4 linked regions of the Homo sapiens genome follow. The protein of the gene in region 2 purifies or fractionates together with the protein of the main gene of each other region. This does not show direct contact. Each region holds a gene or a part of one and is shown on either strand. Other genes may lie near its edges.

Region 1 (3,500 bases), about 17 Mb from region 2:
GAGACTCCAAGAGGCAGGGGACAGGGAACCCAGGATGATGGCTGTGCAGCCAGAATGCACGCAGAAAGCATGGGGGCGTTTTTGGAACAGAACATCTCCAGGAGAGATTTCTCAAATATTAGATGCATTCGAATACATCAAGAGGAGATACAGACAACGTATAGCTTCTTACTGAATTAGTACGACGAAAATGAAGAAAGGACATAGACACATAAGAGTTACTTCCTCAAGTGAAAACAATGCTGCAAAAGAAAGATAAGGCAGTCACAGTATTTCACCTGGCTCAGCTATAAGTACACTGAGCACTGATTTCTGTTTTCAGGTAATACTGAACACGAATCTAACAAAAACCACAAGGGGACCATCAGGAGGACAGAGAAGAATAAATCGGAGTGACAGAAAGGCTGAGTGTGTGCAGTGGAAGTAAGGGGGTGAAAGACAGCTAAATCTTCATCTTTGATGGTAGAAAGTCAATAGTGAATCTGAAAAATAAGAGGCTGTATATGAACAAAATATCTGGAAATACAGAGACAAATAATTTTTTAAGATAAGCTAAAAGAGTTGAAATTGGTTCCCCTGAAAAGGGTGAAATGGAGGTAGGCAGTAGAAATTTTTGGCTTTTTTTTTTTTTTTTTTTTTTGAGACGGAGTCTTGCTCTGTCCCCCAGGCTGGAGTGCAGTGGCGCAATCTCGGCTCACTGCAAGCTCCGCCTCTCGGATTCTCGCCATTCTCCTGCCTCAGCCTCCCAAGTAACTGGGACTACAGGTGCCCACCACCACGCCCGACTAATTTTTTTGTATTTTTAGTAGAGACGGGGTTTCACCGTGTTAGCCAGGATGGTCTCGATCTCCTGACATTGTGATCCGCCCGCCTCGGCCTCCCAAAGTGCTGGGATTACAGGTGTGAGCCATCACGCCCGGCCAATATTTGGCTTTTTAAAACTATGTGTATGTTTAACTTTGATTAAAATTATTTAAAACAGAGCATGACAGATGAGGAAATAAAGACAACAAGAACAGATGGGAGTAGTTTTGCTGCACAAAGAACCAAAGTAATGGGGCAATAGTTGGAAAGGAATGGAGGCTTCAAGACACAGAGGCAACATCATTTCCCATCTGCTGTATTAAACATACCTGGAACCAATTGTTTTTAGTTTTCTATCTGGCTCACATTATACTTACTGTATTTTGCCAGGTTATTGGCAACTCATCAAAAATAACTTTTATAGGTACACAACAGCCCATCTAACAGCTTTATTATAATTAATATAAACTGTTAAACGTGGATTTCCAACTAGCCTGTCTACAGCAAAAGCAAGAGATAGTACATCTCTTAATTTCAAGTAGTCTGTAATTCAGTTTGTAAGAAAACACAAAAGATATAAGTAATTCAGTAGCAACATTATTCTCATAGCCACAAACTGAAAACAACCCAAAAGTCCATCTACTGTGACTGGATAAACAAGATGTAATACAGCTGACTTTTGAATAATAGGTTTGAACTGCACAGGTCCAGTTACACACAAATTTTTTTCAACACATATACTGGAAGATATTTTGGAGATGTGAAAAAACCCAGAGAGGAGCTAAGTATCGTAGAAATGTCAAAAAAATTAAGAAAAAGCTACGTCATGAATGCATAAACTGTATGTAGGTACTAGTCTATCTTATTTACTACCGTAAAATATACACAAATCTATTATAAAAAGTTAAAATTAAAACTTACGCACACAAACACAAGCCATATATGATGCCATTTGTAGTCAAGAGAAATGGAAACAAATGCAAAGATGCAGTATTAAATCATAACTCCATAAAATTAACTGTAGTGCATACTGTACGACAACTTCACAGCCACCACCTATTGCTCTTGTGGTGAGCTCAGGTGTTGCAAGTATCCACTTAGAATGCCATGTGATGCTGATCACATGTGATGCTGATTATCTCCCATAAGCAGTTTTGACTCTCCAATAAACTGTCTATCACAGTAGAAAGTGATTTCTCGCAGTTCTTGCCTATTTTTAATCTTAGTGCAATATTGTAAGCTTTGGGACCATAGGACCCACCCAACGTGGGTCCCACATAAAGTGCCACTAGTGATGTTGGGAGTGCTCCAAAGCAGCACAGAAAAGTCATGACAGTACAAGAAAAAGCTGAACTGGCCAGGCGCAGTGGCTCACACCTGTAATCCCAGCACTTTGGGAGCCCGAGGCGGGTGGACTGCGAGGTCACGAGATTGAGACCATCCTGCCTAACACGGTGAAACCCCATCTCTACTAAAAATACAAAAAAATTAGCTGGGCATGGTGGCAAATGCCTATAGTTGCAGCTACTCAGGAGGCTGAGGCAGGAGAATCCATTGAACCCGGGAGGTGGAGGTTGCAGTGAGCCGAGATTGCACCACTGCACTTCAGCCTTGGCGATAGAGGGAGACTCCATCTCAAAAAAAAAAAAAAAAAAAAAAAAAGAAAAAAGCTGAATTGCTTGATAGGTACTGTTGACTGAGGCCTGCAGTTGCAGTTGCCCACCACTTCAAGATAAATGACTATACCATAGGACCATTGTAAAAAAAAGAAAAGGAAATTCATGAAGCTGTCACTGCAGCTATAACAGCAGATATGAATACACCTGCAGTTTTGCCAAATACCCCTTTATCTTATAAAATAAAAATAAAGCCCCTAGGCGCCCAGGCAAGACAGAACAGACTGTGGCAATAAGATATCAAATTGTAAACAAGACCTAAGACCACCTGGGCAAGGGTTAAGTCATACACCCTACACTTAAAGAGTAAATGACATTCTAATTGCCACAGGATATTTTTTTTTCTCTAGCAGCTTAACAAGCACTGGCCTTGTGATAAACAATATTAAAACAATTACAGCTCACCAACAGCTAGATACAGATTGACCCCAGCTTCCCTCTTCCCACACTCTGTTCCACAAACAGTAACTACAGCTTTGATTGGACAAGAGACTGATCCCAGTAACATCTCCTGATAAGAGATCACTGACCATGGACTGGTACTACCAGCTTCCAGAGGCAGTGCATTCAGTTGTCATGTCCCTGTCCCTATTTCATCTTGTAACATACAGGATCTAATTGTCAGGTATTTTAAATGTTAAGTCTCCACCCCAAAGCGACCAGGGGTTGTACATTTACTCGGTATACAAGCATTAGGACCCCTCTTATATTCAGAGCTCCTCCTATAACCTGTTAAATAAGTATACTTGGCCAACGCATTCAGCATAAATTCCTGTCTCATCCTTTCCTCCTTCAGAGTGCCTGCTTTTGGTCTCTGCTGAAGGCTATACTTTCCAGCCTGTCAGAATGGCCACCCTGCAGACTGCAACCCTTTCTAAGAAATAAAGTTTCCTCTCCAAATTTATAGATCTTGTGATTCTTTTCTTGACAATCTCAAATTGGAAATGCAGCTTTTATGTGGGTGCAGGATTGTTCTAAGAAAGACACATCTATAGAGTCTAATATGATGGAGAAAAAAAT
Region 2 (5,581 bases):
ACCTCTGCCTCCTGGGTTCAAGTGATTCTCTTCCCTCAGCCACCCGAGTAGCTGAGATTACAGGCACACACCACCATGCCTCACTAATTTTTTTGTAATAAATGACATATTTTTAATAATATGTTTTTCTGTCTGTTTTGCAGTGAAGAAATACAATCAGTACTTTATTTAGGAGGTCTCTATCTAACAGCTTTGCTTACTGCTTCTAATAACTTAGCTGTATTTGGGTTTTCAGCATAAACAAGCAGATCACATGTGAATAAAACTATGAAACCCACCTACAGAATTTTAAATTTTAACTTTTTTAAAAATATTTTTTAAAGACAGAGTCTCACTCTGTCGCCTAGGCTGGAGTGCAGTGGCATGATCTCGGCTCACTGCAACCTCCGTCTCCTGAGTTCAAGCCATTCTTCTGCTTCAGCCTCCCAAGTAGCTGAGATTACAGGCGCCCACCACCACGCCCGGCTAATTTTTGTATGTTTAGTAGAGATGGGGTTTCACCAGGTTGGTCAGGGTGGTCTTGAACTCCTGACCTCAGGTGATCCGCCCACCTCAGTCTCCCAAAGTGCTGAGATTACAGGCGTGAGCCACTGCGCCTGGCATATTTTAACTTTTTTTTTTTTAAACAAATACAAATGAGATCTCTCTATGTTGCCTTGGCTGGTCTTGAACTCCTGGCCTCAAGCAGCCCTCTTGTCTTAGCCTCCCAAAGTGTTGGAATTACAGGTGTGAGCTATGGCACCCAGCCCTGTTCAAGCTTCTTTCTTTCCTTTATTATTATTATTATTATTATTATTATTATTATTATTTTTATTTTTTCCAGACAGGGTCTTGTTCTGTTCCCAAGCTGGAGTGCAGTAGTTTGATCATGGTCACTGCAGCTTCGAGCTCCTGGGCTCAAGCATTCCTCCCACCTCAACCTTCCAAGTAGCTAAGGCTACAGGCACAGGCCACAATGCCCAGCTAATTTTTAAATTTTTTTGTAGACAGGATCTCTCTATGTTGCCCAGGCTGGTCTTGAACTCCTGGCCTCAAGCCATCCCCCTGCCTCGCCTTGCCAAAGTGCTTGGGATTATAGGTGTTAGCCACCACACCCAGTTATTTCTTTTAACAGGTCAAGAATTATTTGATGCCCCAATTCTGATATGAACTCATGACTGATTCTGCTGCTCCTGCTAGTTCTTTCTGATGGTGCTTTGTTTTTTTGTGTGTATTTTATGGTTTAAATTATGAACTTATTCTTTGGATGTTTATATATGCCAGATGCTTGGTATCAATTCTAATTTAAGACCACTTAAAATTCTTGACCCAAGGTCTTTGGAACCATTTGATAGAATTTGGGCTATAAACCCATGAGGACTGGTTTGTGGTTATGGCTTTTTGTGTTATTTTGTGCCCCTAGGGCAGGGGGCTTTCACTGGGGTAATTTTTGTAATCCCCTAGGGAGGATTTCTAGCCTACCCATGCATTGAGAGTATATTAGGGTCTTGGTTTTATGAGGAATCTTCTGTTAATTATCCCACCTTCACTAGGCCTTTGTCCAATAATGCTGTGGACCTTAAGCTTAGATTTTTACCTGCTTGGGCAAATACCCTCATGGTGAAAAGCCTTCTTTAGTGCTTCCAGTCACCAGTTCCTCTTCGTCTTGGTTTTTACCTTCTTGCTGGCTTATCAAGGCTTTTTTTTTTTTTTTTTTTTTTTTTTTTGAGACAAAGCCTCACTCTGTTGTGAGGCTGGAGTGCAGTGGCGCGATCTCAGCTCACTGCAACCCTACCTCCTGGGTTTAAGCAATTCTCATGCCTCAGCCTCCCAAGTAGTTGGGATTACAGGTGCCAGCCACCACGCCCAGCTAATTTTTGCATTTTTAGTAGAGACGGGGTTTCAACATGTTGACCAGGCTGGTCTTGGACTACTGACCTCAAGTGATCCACCCGCCTCGACCCCCGCAAAGTGCTCAGATTACAGGCGTGAGCCACTGCACCCAGCCTGTATCAGTCATTTTAAATTATTTTCATGTGGAGTATAAATCAGAGTAATGAATCCAGCACATGGCTAAAACTTCCCGTATCATTTTACTAAGTCATTTCTAGTCATTTTGGAAAGGACATATGAGGTTAAATGAGCACCTGAAACATTCATAAAAATGAAATCAAGAGTGGCCTTTACAACTGGTAACTAAAGATATTTCTTTTTTTTATAGGTGTCAGCTGTGATGCATGTTTAAAAGGAAATTTTCGAGGTCGCAGATATAAGTGTTTAATTTGCTACGATTACGATCTTTGTGCATCTTGTTATGAAAGTGGTGCAACAACAACAAGGCATACAACTGACCACCCAATGCAGTGCATATTAACAAGGGTAGATTTTGGTAAGTAATTAAAAATTTAATGAATTACATCATTTAGAATTTTATGTACGTTGAAGAAGTAAAGGCAAAGTGTTCTAAAACTCCCCAGCAGCATACCATAAGCCCCAAATTCATTAAACATGAAATAAATCTTACTTTTTTTTGAGACGGAGTTTCGCTCTTGTTGCCCAGGCTGGAGTGCAATGGCGCGATCTTGGCTCACTGCAACCTCCACCTCCCTGGTTCAAGCAATTCCCCTGCCTCAGCCACCCGAGTAGCTGGGATTACAGGTGCACACCACCACGCCTGGCTAATTTTTTTGTATTTTTAGTAGAGACAGGGTTTCACCACGTTGGCCAGACTGGTCTCGAACTCCTGACCTCAGTCAATCTGCCCGACTCAGCCGCCCAAAGTGCTGGGATTATAGGCGTGAGCCACTGTGCCTGGCTTTTTTTTTTTTTTTTTTTTTTTTTTTGAGGAGTCTTACCCTGTCGCCTAGGCTGGAGTGCAATGTCGTGATCTCAGCTCGCTGCAACCTCCACCCCCCAGGTTCAAGCGATTCTCCTGCCTCAGCCTCCCAAGGAGCTGGGATTACAGGCGTGCACCACCATGCCCGGCTGATTTTTTGTATCTTTAGTAGAGATAGGGTTTCACCATGTTAACCAGGCTGGTCTTGAACTCCTAACCTAATGATACACCTGCCTCGGCCTCCAAAGTGCTGGGATTACAGGCGTAAGCCACCGCGCCCGGCCTTACTTTTTACGTACTAAGTAATTCTGTCTGTTCATCTTAATCATAGTTTACTTGTTTAAAAAAACCATTCAGAAATATACACAACTGACAAGGAATGAAATAGAAGAGTGCTTCAGTAAAGAAGAAATATGCTCTGTCTTTTGTTCGTGCTATTAACACACAAATAATAGCTTTATTTTATTTTATTTTTTATTTTTTTAAGACAGAGTCTCACTCTGTCGCCCACGCTGGAATGCAGTGGCCGGATTTCGGCTCACTGCAACATCTGCCTCCTGGCTTCAAGCAATTCTCGTGCCTCAGCCTCTTGAGTAGCTGAGACTACAGGTGTGTGCCACCTTGCCCAGCTAATTTTTTTGTATTTTTAGTAGAGATGAAGTTTCACTATGTTGGCCAGGCTGGTCTTGACCTCAAGTTATCCACCTGCCTTCGCCTCCCAAAGTGCTGGGATTACAGACGTGAGCCACCATGCCCAGCAATAATAGCTTTTGTAGTGACCAGAAAACAGATTGTTGGCTGGTTATGGTGGCTAACGCCTGTAATCCCAGCCCTTTGGGAGGCTTAAGATGGTCAGATCACTTGAGCCCAGGAGTTTGAGATGAGCCTGGGCAACATGGCAAAAACCCTGTCTCTGCATCCACCCCCGAAAAATACAATAAATTAGCTGGATGTGGTGGCGCACATGCATCTGTAGCCCTAGCTACTTGGGAGGCTGAGATGGGAGGATCACTTGAGCCCAGGAGGTCAAGTGTGCAGTGAACCCTGATTGTGCCACTACATTCCGGCCTGGCCAACAAAGCAAGACGCTATCTCAAAAAAAAAAAAAGGCAGATTGTTTCTACAGTTGATTAGAAGACATTGTAAGAAAATATATAAATGTTTCATGCTATAATTTTTTTTTTTTTTTTTTTTGAGACAAGAGTTTCACTCTTGTCGCCTAGGCTGGAGTGCAATGGCGCCATCTCAGCTCACTGCAACCTCCACCTCCTGGGTTCAAGCGATTCTCCTGCCTCAGCCTCCTGAATAGCTGGGATTACAGGTGCCCGCCACCATGCCCAGAAAATTTTTTTTGTATTTTTAATAGAGACAGGGTTTCACCATGTTGGCCAGGCTGGTCTTGAACTCCTAATCTTAGGTGATCCACTTGCGGGCCTCCCAGAGTGCTGAGATTACAGACATGAGCCACCACGCCTGGCTTCGTGCTATAATTTCTTACCTAGCCCACACTTTTTGTCCTTTTTATTTCAGCCATCCTAGTAGGTGTAAAGTAGTATCTCAGGTGGTTTTGATTTATATTTCTCTGAAATATAAATTATGTTGAGCATCTTTTCTTGTGCTTATGGGCCATTTGTATATCTACTTTGAAGAAATACCTTGATCCTTTGCCCATTTTTTAATTGGATAATGTGTCTTTGTTATTGAATTGTAATAGTTTTTTATTCCTTATGTAAGTTTTTTTATCTGATAGATGATTTGCAAAAATTTTCTCCCATTCTGTGGGTTGTGTTTTCACTTTCTTGGTGGTGTGCTTTGAAGCACAAAACTTCTAATTCTGATAATGTCCCGTTTATGTATTTTTTCATTTGTTGTGCATTTGATGCTGTATCTAGAAAATCACTGCCTAATTCAAAGTCACGAAGATTTAAACTTGTGTGTTCTTCTAAGAGTTTTATAGTTTTAGCTCTTACATTTAGATATTTGACCCATTTAGAATTAATTTTTATATGTGGAATGAGGTAAAGGGCCAACTTTATTCTTTTGCATGTGAGTATTCAGTTGTCCCAGTATCTTTTGTTGGAAAGACTATTCTTTACCCAATGCATTGTCTTGGCACTCTTGTTAAAAATAGGTTGACTATAAATGAGGGTTTATTTCTAGACTCTCAGTCTATTCACATTGATCTATATGCCTGGTGTTTTTGTTTGTTTTTTGACACAGAGTCTCACTTTCACCCAGGCTGGAGTGCAGTGGTGCGATCTTGGCTCACTGCAGCCTCCGCTTCCCAGGCTCAAGCAATCCTCCACCCTCAGCCTTCCAAGTAATTGGGATCACAGGTGGAAGCCACCACGCCTAGCTGATTTTTAAATTTTTTGTGGAGATGGGGTTTTTCCACATTGCCCAAACTGGTATCAAACTCCTGAGCTCAAAGTGATCTGCCTGCCTCAGCCTCCCAAAGTGCTGAGATTGCAGGCGTGAGCCACCATGCCAAGCCTACATGTCTGTCTTTATGCCAGTACTACACTGTCTTGATTTCTGTAGCTTCATAGTAAGCTTTGAAATCAAGAAGAGTGAGTCTTCCAACTTTGTTCTTTTTCAATATTATTTTGGGTATTCTGTGTCCGTTTCATTTCTGTATTTTAGATTCAGCTTGTCAGTTTCTGCAAAGAAGCCAACTAGGATTTTGAATGGAATTATGTCGAATCGGTAGATTAGTTTGGAGAGTATTGCCATCTTAATAATATTAAATCTGCTGATACATGAACA
Region 3 (3,268 bases), on a different chromosome or scaffold from region 2:
TTTAACGCTTTTTATTGTAGAGATTCCCCATCTGATAAACCATTATGTCCATCTTTTCTTTTAAATCTTGAAACATAACTTAAAAATATATATAAAGATGGGGTCTTGCCATGTTGCCCAAGCTGTTCTCACACTCCTTGGGTCAAGCGATTCTCCCTCCTCGGCCTCCCGAAGTGCTGGGCTTACAGGCGGGAGCCACTGTGCCCTGCCTGTGTTGTCTTTCTTTAAGCTTAGAGTCTTGGGTTTTATTCTCGCAGGTAGGTAATGAGCTTGTGCGTCAGCTTGGTCTGTTTGAAGCTTGTTTCTAAGCTTTGTTTGGGCAGCTCTCCAGCACCTCTAGAGAAGCTCCAGGGATAGAGCAGCCCAAGGCGTGTGGCCTCTCCAGGGCTTCAGTTGGAGTTTTGTGTCTTTGTGTCTTCGGTAAGGTCTTGCCACACTGGCTTTTTGGAAGTCCAGTATCTTTTAGCATTCCTCTAGAATTTGGGTTCAGCTCATAGTTTTGTTTTTTTTTTTTTGAGGCAGAGTCTCACTTTGTCTCCCAGGCTGGAGTGCAGTGGCGCACTCTCGGCTCACTGCAGCCTCCACTTCCCATGTTCAAGCAATTCTCCTGCCTCAGCCTCCCGAGTAGCTGGGATTACAGGTGCCCGCCACCATGCCCAGCTAATTTTTGTATTTTTAGTAGAGACAGGGTTTTGCCATGTTTACCAGGCTGGTCTTGAACTCCTGACCTCAGGTTATCCACCCGCATTGGCCTCCCAAAGTGCTGGGATTACAGGTGTGAGCCACTGCTGCCGGCGTCAGGTCATAGCTTCTTAGTAGCTGTTCTCTGCCAGGCCTTGTGACATCTTGCTTTGCACATGGCAGCCTAATTTGGCCAACGACTCAAGGAGGGCTCTGTCTAGATTTCTAGAGCCCCTTTGCTGTGGTGCTCCCTCCCCTCTGTGGGCTGCCCTGCAGACCCAGCTGCACTAGCGCCCCTGGACGTCCCGTCTCTGCCTCCTCGGCTCAGCAAGCTCCCGTGTGTTGCTCTGGCCCTGCCTCCCTGCACTGTGGCTGGGCAGAAAACAGGTGACTGTGGGGCCCATCTTATGTGGTCCCATGTCTTAGGCTCCTGTCTCTCAAGCTGCACTGCTTGTCTGACATCTGGAAACAACGGCTTCCCCTTCTTGTCCAGTTTCATCATTTGCATATGGAGGGAGGGCTGTTCAGACTAATTATCTGTCATGGCTGGAAGTTGACAGTTGGCCTCGTGTTTCTCTTTTGAAGTCAGCCGTCAGTTTTATTGTTGCTCTTTCAAAGAGAGCATGTCTTTTTTTCTTCTGGCAGGTTTTGGGACTTTTCTCTTTGTTTTTCAGCAGTTTTTCTGTCCCATTTTGGGGTGTGTGTGTGTGTGTGTGTGTGTGTGTGTGTTTGTGTGTTTTGAGACAGAATCTCACTTTGCCGCCCAGGCTGGAGGGCAGTGGTGTGATCTCGGCTCACTGCAACTTCCGCCCCCTGAGTTTAAGTGATTCTCCTGCCTCAGCTTCCTGAGTAGTTGGGATTACTGGTGCCTGCCACTGCGTCCGGCTAATTTTTGTATTTTTAGTAGAGTTGGGGTTTCACCATCTTGGCCAGGCTGGTCTTGAACTCCTGACCTCGTGATCCACCCGCCTCGGCCACCCAAAGTGCTGGGATTACAGGCGTGAGCCACCGCGCCTGGCCCTAAAATCACTCTCTTGAATTTACTGTATGTTCTAACTCCTGTTTCATTTCAGGGTCTATTTTAATGTTTTTCTCCATTTTTCTGCTGTTCTTTTATTGTAAGCTGGACATTGTGGACCCTGCAGTGTTGAAGATCAGTATTGTGTGGTCTTTTTTTTTTTTGAGAAGCAGTTTTGCTCTTGTTGCCCATGCTGGTGTGCAGTGGCGCGTTCTCGGCTCACCGCAACCTCCGCCTCCCAGGTTCAAGCGATTCTCCTACAGGCGTGCGCCACCATGCTGGGCTAACTTTTTGTATTTTTAGTAGAGATGCGGTTTCTCCATGTTTGTCAGGCTGGTCTCAAACTCCTGACCTCAGGTGATCGGCCTCCCAAAGTGCTGGGATTACAGGCGTGAGCCACCACGCCTGGCCGGGGTGTGTGTTTTTAACTTACCCTGTTGGGGTCTGTAGTGCTTCTTGATTATGTTGTTTGATGCCTCTGGTTAGTTTGGGAAATTTTTCAACTGTTGTCTCCGAATATTCATTTTGCATATTCCTTCCCTCCCTCTTGCCACCTCCCCCTGTGGCCAGTCACACACGCGTTAGGCCTTTCCGTTGTGTCTCTTTCCTGTGTTTTCCTTTTGTCTTTTCGTGCTCTAGTCTGGATATTTCCTTTTGAATAAACTTGCCATTAATTCTTCCCCCAGGAGCTGCAGAGGCTGGAGACAGAGTTGGGCCAACCCGCTGAGCGCTGGAAGGACACCTGGGACCGGGTGAAGGCTGCACAGCGCCTCGAGGGCCGGCCAGACGGCCGTGTGAGTGAGGGCCAGTGTGAGCGTCCACGGTGGGCGTGTTGCTGGGAGAAAGTGGAGTCTGTCCAGCCCTGACCCAAGTCCCAACCTCCTGTTCCCAGGGCACCCCTAGCTCCCTCCTTGTGTCCACCGCACCCCACCACCGTCGCTCGCTGGGTGTGTACCTGCAGGAGGGGCCCGTGGGCTCCACCCTGAGCCTCAGCCTGGACAGCGACCAGAGTAGTGGCTCAACCACATCCGGCTCCCGTCAGGCTGCCCGCCGCAGCACCAGCACCCTGTACAGCCAGTTCCAGACAGCAGAGAGTGAGAACAGGTATGAGGGCACCTCCCACTGCCACATGGACACCTCTGAGCTGGTGTTCTGGGGTCCCAGGCAGTCCTCTGGTGGGAGATTGCGGGTGCTTTTGAGGAGCTTGCTTAAGTATACACCACCACTGGGAGGGGTTTGGGGTGTCGAACTGGTGACCACAGCTGACCACAGCCTGCAGTGGCTGAGGGAGGAGTAGAGAGAGGGCAGTGGTGGGGCCCCCGTGAGTCTGGAGTCTGGCAGGATCCATCCCAGGCAGCTGCTGCCGTGGCTGCTTCTACAGATCTACCTGCCTGGCCATCCCTCTCCTCGTAAGGGCGCCTGCCCTGTGTAGGGGGCTGCTTTCCCAAGACCCTGAGGCTCTGGTGTGGGGATGCTCCCTGGAGTCTGGAGGGTGTGAGGCGCCCTTCACTGTCTCCTTTCTGGGCGTCGTCTTCTTGGGCCTGCAGCCCCCCATCAAAGGCTTCTTTG
Region 4 (3,500 bases), on a different chromosome or scaffold from region 2:
TCTTTGAAAATTTTAATATCTGTTTCTAACTCTGATAGACTATAAGAAATAGATACACAAAAATGATCAATAGAATAAACTTATAAGAACATTTCATAATAGTGTTTTTAGAGTATCTTATCAAATATATTATCTTATACATTCATGCTAAACAATGACTTATTTAAAAAAAAAAAAAAAGTTGAGTATTTACCAGGCAAATTAAGAATCAATTTGGCCAGGCATGGTGTCACGCCTGTAATCCTAGCACTTTAGGAGGCCAAGGCAGGAGGATTGCTTGAGCTCAGGAGTTTGAGACCCTCCTGGACAACAGTGAGATCTTGTCTCTACAAAAAAATTTAGAAAATTAGCTGGGCATGGTGGCATGTGCCTGCAGTCCCAGCTACTTGGGTGGTGGAGGTGGGAGGATTGCTGAAGGTTAAGGCTGCAGTGAGCTGAGACTGCACCACTGCACTCCAGCCTGGGCAACGGAGTGAAACCCCGTCTCAAAAACACCCACAAAAAACCCAAACCAAGGCTGCAGTGAGCTGAGACTGCACCACTGCACTCCAGCCTGGGCAACGGAGTGAAACCCTGTCTCAAAAACACCCACAAAAAACCCAAACCAGATCTAAATTAATTGGTAAAATTATCAGTGATATAAATTTCATCATACATTACTTATCTCAGAAACATAAATCGCTTGTGAATTTAAGATTTTTGGTTTGGGAATTTTATTAATCAACATGGCAGTGATAATATAGAACAGACTAGTTACTCTTAACTGATAAAAACACTCCAACATTTTTGGATAAGAAACTACTGATTCAGGAATTTTAAATGTTAATTCTTGAAGGGATTTCGGGAGTATAACTCCTGAGAGCATGTTTATTCTATTTATGATACATATATAATATTGTTATTAAATTCTGGAATGCATTATGATTTTAAAGAAAAAGAACAACATGGACTTTGAATTTGGATTTAGATCTGCCATTTACTAGCCATATAAATTTAGGCAAGTTACTCAAACCTCAATTTTCTCATCTTCAAAATGAAGACAATATCAACTATTGAATGGGTGATGAGATGAGATCACATACGGAAAAGAGCCTTACATGACATTTCATGCAAAGTATCTTTTCAACAAACAGTAGATTGTGTGCCCCTTTTAGCTCAACTTCCCACCTAGGCTACTTTCATACTTTAAAAAAAGTTATGAAACAAAATGTTAATAATTGATTTTAAGATATTTGTCTCCAACTCCCAATGTGATACATCATCCATATTTACCTTTTGCCATTCTGTAGTAAAATGTGCAGTTTGCTTCTGTCTACAGAAGAATGTTTGGGGTCCACCAAAGCATCCAAGGTCTCAAGGATCAGTGGCTGCAAAATGCTAAGTTTCCCCTGAAGGGTGTTGATCTAGATAACAACATGACCTTTCATAAGAATTAAAACAATCTTTTTAGAATATTCAGGATCAGTGAATCCTCTGATTAAATACAGAAATCTGTAGTAGCTTGAAATGCTGGTAACATTTCAGAACATAGATAATTCTAGAATGCCTATTCCAGATGATTCAAAAACTAGATCCTCTGGGTTCAAAGAACTATGTATGATGTTATCTTTAGGCACAGATTTGGTTGACAAGGAGCTAACTCTCGTAAGAGTCTTTCTCCTCCCGCCCGGCCAGCCGCCCCGTCCGGGAGGTGAGGGGCACCTCTGCCCGGCCGCCCCGTCTGGGAAGTGATGAGCCCCTCTGCCCAGCCGCCACCCCGTCTGGGAGGTGTACCCAACAGCTCATTGAGAACGGGCCACGATGATGATGGCGGTTTTGTCGAATAGAAAAGGGGGAAATGTGGAGAAAAGAAAGAGAGATCAGATTGTTACTGTGTCTGTGTAGAAAGAAGTAGACATAGGAGACTCCATTTTGTTCTGTACTAAGAAAAATTCTTCTGCCTTGGGATGCTGTTAATCTATAACCTTACCCCCAACCCTGTGCTCTCTGAAACATGTGCTGTGTCCACTCAGGGTTAAATGGATTAAGGGCGGTGCAAGATGTGCTTTGTTAAACAGATGCTTGAAGGCAGCATGCTCGTTAAGAGTCATCACCACTCCCTAATCTCAAGTACCCAGGGACACAAACACTGCGGAAGGCGGCAGGGTCCTCTTCCTAGGAAAACCAGAGACCCTTGTTCACATGTTTATCTGCTGACCTTCCCTCCACTATTGTCCTATGACCCTGCCAAATCCCCCTCTCCGAGAAACACCCAAGAATGATCAATAAATACTAAAAAAATTTAAAAAAAAAAGTCTTTCTCCTATAGACATTCATTATGAAGTAATGAGGGATCAAGTAAAATAAAATCTGCTATTATTAAAACACAAGCTTTCAGTAATACCTGTGTTCTCTGTAAACAGAATATGGTTCAAAATTCCTACAAAGCTCTTTGAAAATAAAAACTTGAGCTTTAAAACATAAACATATCAGAGTAAAGTCAAAAATAGACTATTTAGGTTAACACAAGTATGGTTTGATATTTGATATTCGGCAGGTATGCACTAATCCTGCTATATAGTTGTTAAAATACTGAAACACTTCCATGCCAGTTGGCAAATAGCATATACTAACTAAATCAAGCGGTAAAACTGATGACGTAAATTACAGCATATAGTCTTTATCTCAGAAGCACAATTACTGTGAAACAGATTTTTTTATTTGGAAACAAGTCCAGAGTCACAGTGCCTCTGCAGACATGTTGTTTATTTCGTCTCCAGAGGAACTGCTTCCGGGTTAAGAAGTCCTTGGGTGGGAGGGAAGACTGGACAGCCAAATAGGCAGACCACATCTTTTAATCTAAGAGATATCAAACCCTCTGCTCAGCAAGGTGTGGACTTTTGTAGTGGTTGGGGAGGCTGCTGAGGGTCACAGATAGGGTATTTGTGAGGCATATCTACTCATGGTATGTCTTGGTCCCTTAGGTGGGTTTGGGGAGCTTTCCCTTGTTCGAAAACTTATCCCTTTTGAGAGGTGGCTGGTCTTGCTTCTATGTAGTGTTGTTTCGTAAGGAAATCTTCCTGGGACCCCATTTAAAGGAAGAAGAATGTGTATCCCAGCAGACATCCTGAACTCCCTCTCTATTCTCCCCACAGCCAATCTCTAGGCCGGAGACCCATGCCAGCCTAGCCTCTCTCCTTCCCCTCCTGCTCCCTTTAAGATCCCTGTCTTTCTCCTAACAGCATGAGCTCCTGAGAGCTTACCCAGCCTGTGGAGCCCATGACTTACCACTGTTTACATCTTCTTTCTCTCTTCTGCTTTCCCCCTGCTTGGTAACTGGGCTCCCACTACTTATCATCTCACTGGCTGGTGCTAGCTGGTGCTCATTAATTACCCCAAGCAGGAAGTGTAGCCATCTATTCTTTCAGAGCAAGGCAGACAAAAGAAAAGTGTGCCAGGTTCACCCAACCCAATGCACCTCATGTCCTCTCTACCCTCTCTCCTCCTCCCACTCTGGTTAG

Evidence for each region. The genes of interacting proteins can lie anywhere in the genome.
Region 1: the proteins of KCMF1 (region 2) and PNO1 fractionate together in Homo sapiens (co-fractionation; one large-scale study listed by BioGRID). This does not show direct contact.
Region 3: the proteins of KCMF1 (region 2) and SBF1 purify together in Homo sapiens (co-immunoprecipitation; one large-scale study listed by IntAct). This does not show direct contact.
Region 4: the proteins of KCMF1 (region 2) and MRS2 purify together in Homo sapiens (affinity purification with mass spectrometry; 3 studies listed by BioGRID and IntAct, with this or other methods). This does not show direct contact.

What each region holds. Positions count from the first base shown.
Region 1 is NC_000002.12:68,167,888-68,171,387, reverse strand, and holds part of PNO1 (RNA-binding protein PNO1), read right to left. Parts: intron 1-3,500. UniProt on the Homo sapiens protein: Part of the small subunit (SSU) processome, first precursor of the small eukaryotic ribosomal subunit.
Region 2 is NC_000002.12:85,025,689-85,031,269, forward strand, and holds part of KCMF1 (E3 ubiquitin-protein ligase KCMF1), read left to right. Parts: intron 1-2,200; coding exon 2,201-2,368; intron 2,369-5,581. UniProt on the Homo sapiens protein: E3 ubiquitin-protein ligase which accepts ubiquitin from an E2 ubiquitin-conjugating enzyme and then transfers it to targeted substrates, promoting their degradation by the proteasome.
Region 3 is NC_000022.11:50,447,768-50,451,035, reverse strand, and holds part of SBF1 (myotubularin-related protein 5), read left to right. Parts: intron 1-2,385; coding exon 2,386-2,493; intron 2,494-2,591; coding exon 2,592-2,803; intron 2,804-3,268. UniProt on the Homo sapiens protein: Acts as an adapter for the phosphatase MTMR2 to regulate MTMR2 catalytic activity and subcellular location. Promotes the exchange of GDP to GTP, converting inactive GDP-bound Rab proteins into their active GTP-bound form.
Region 4 is NC_000006.12:24,412,936-24,416,435, reverse strand, and holds part of MRS2 (magnesium transporter MRS2 homolog, mitochondrial isoform b precursor), read right to left. Parts: intron 1,421-3,500; exon of another isoform or gene 1,404-1,420; coding exon 1,273-1,403; intron 40-1,272; coding exon 1-39. UniProt on the Homo sapiens protein: Magnesium transporter that mediates the influx of magnesium into the mitochondrial matrix and regulates magnesium metabolism. Also permeable to calcium, sodium and potassium ions.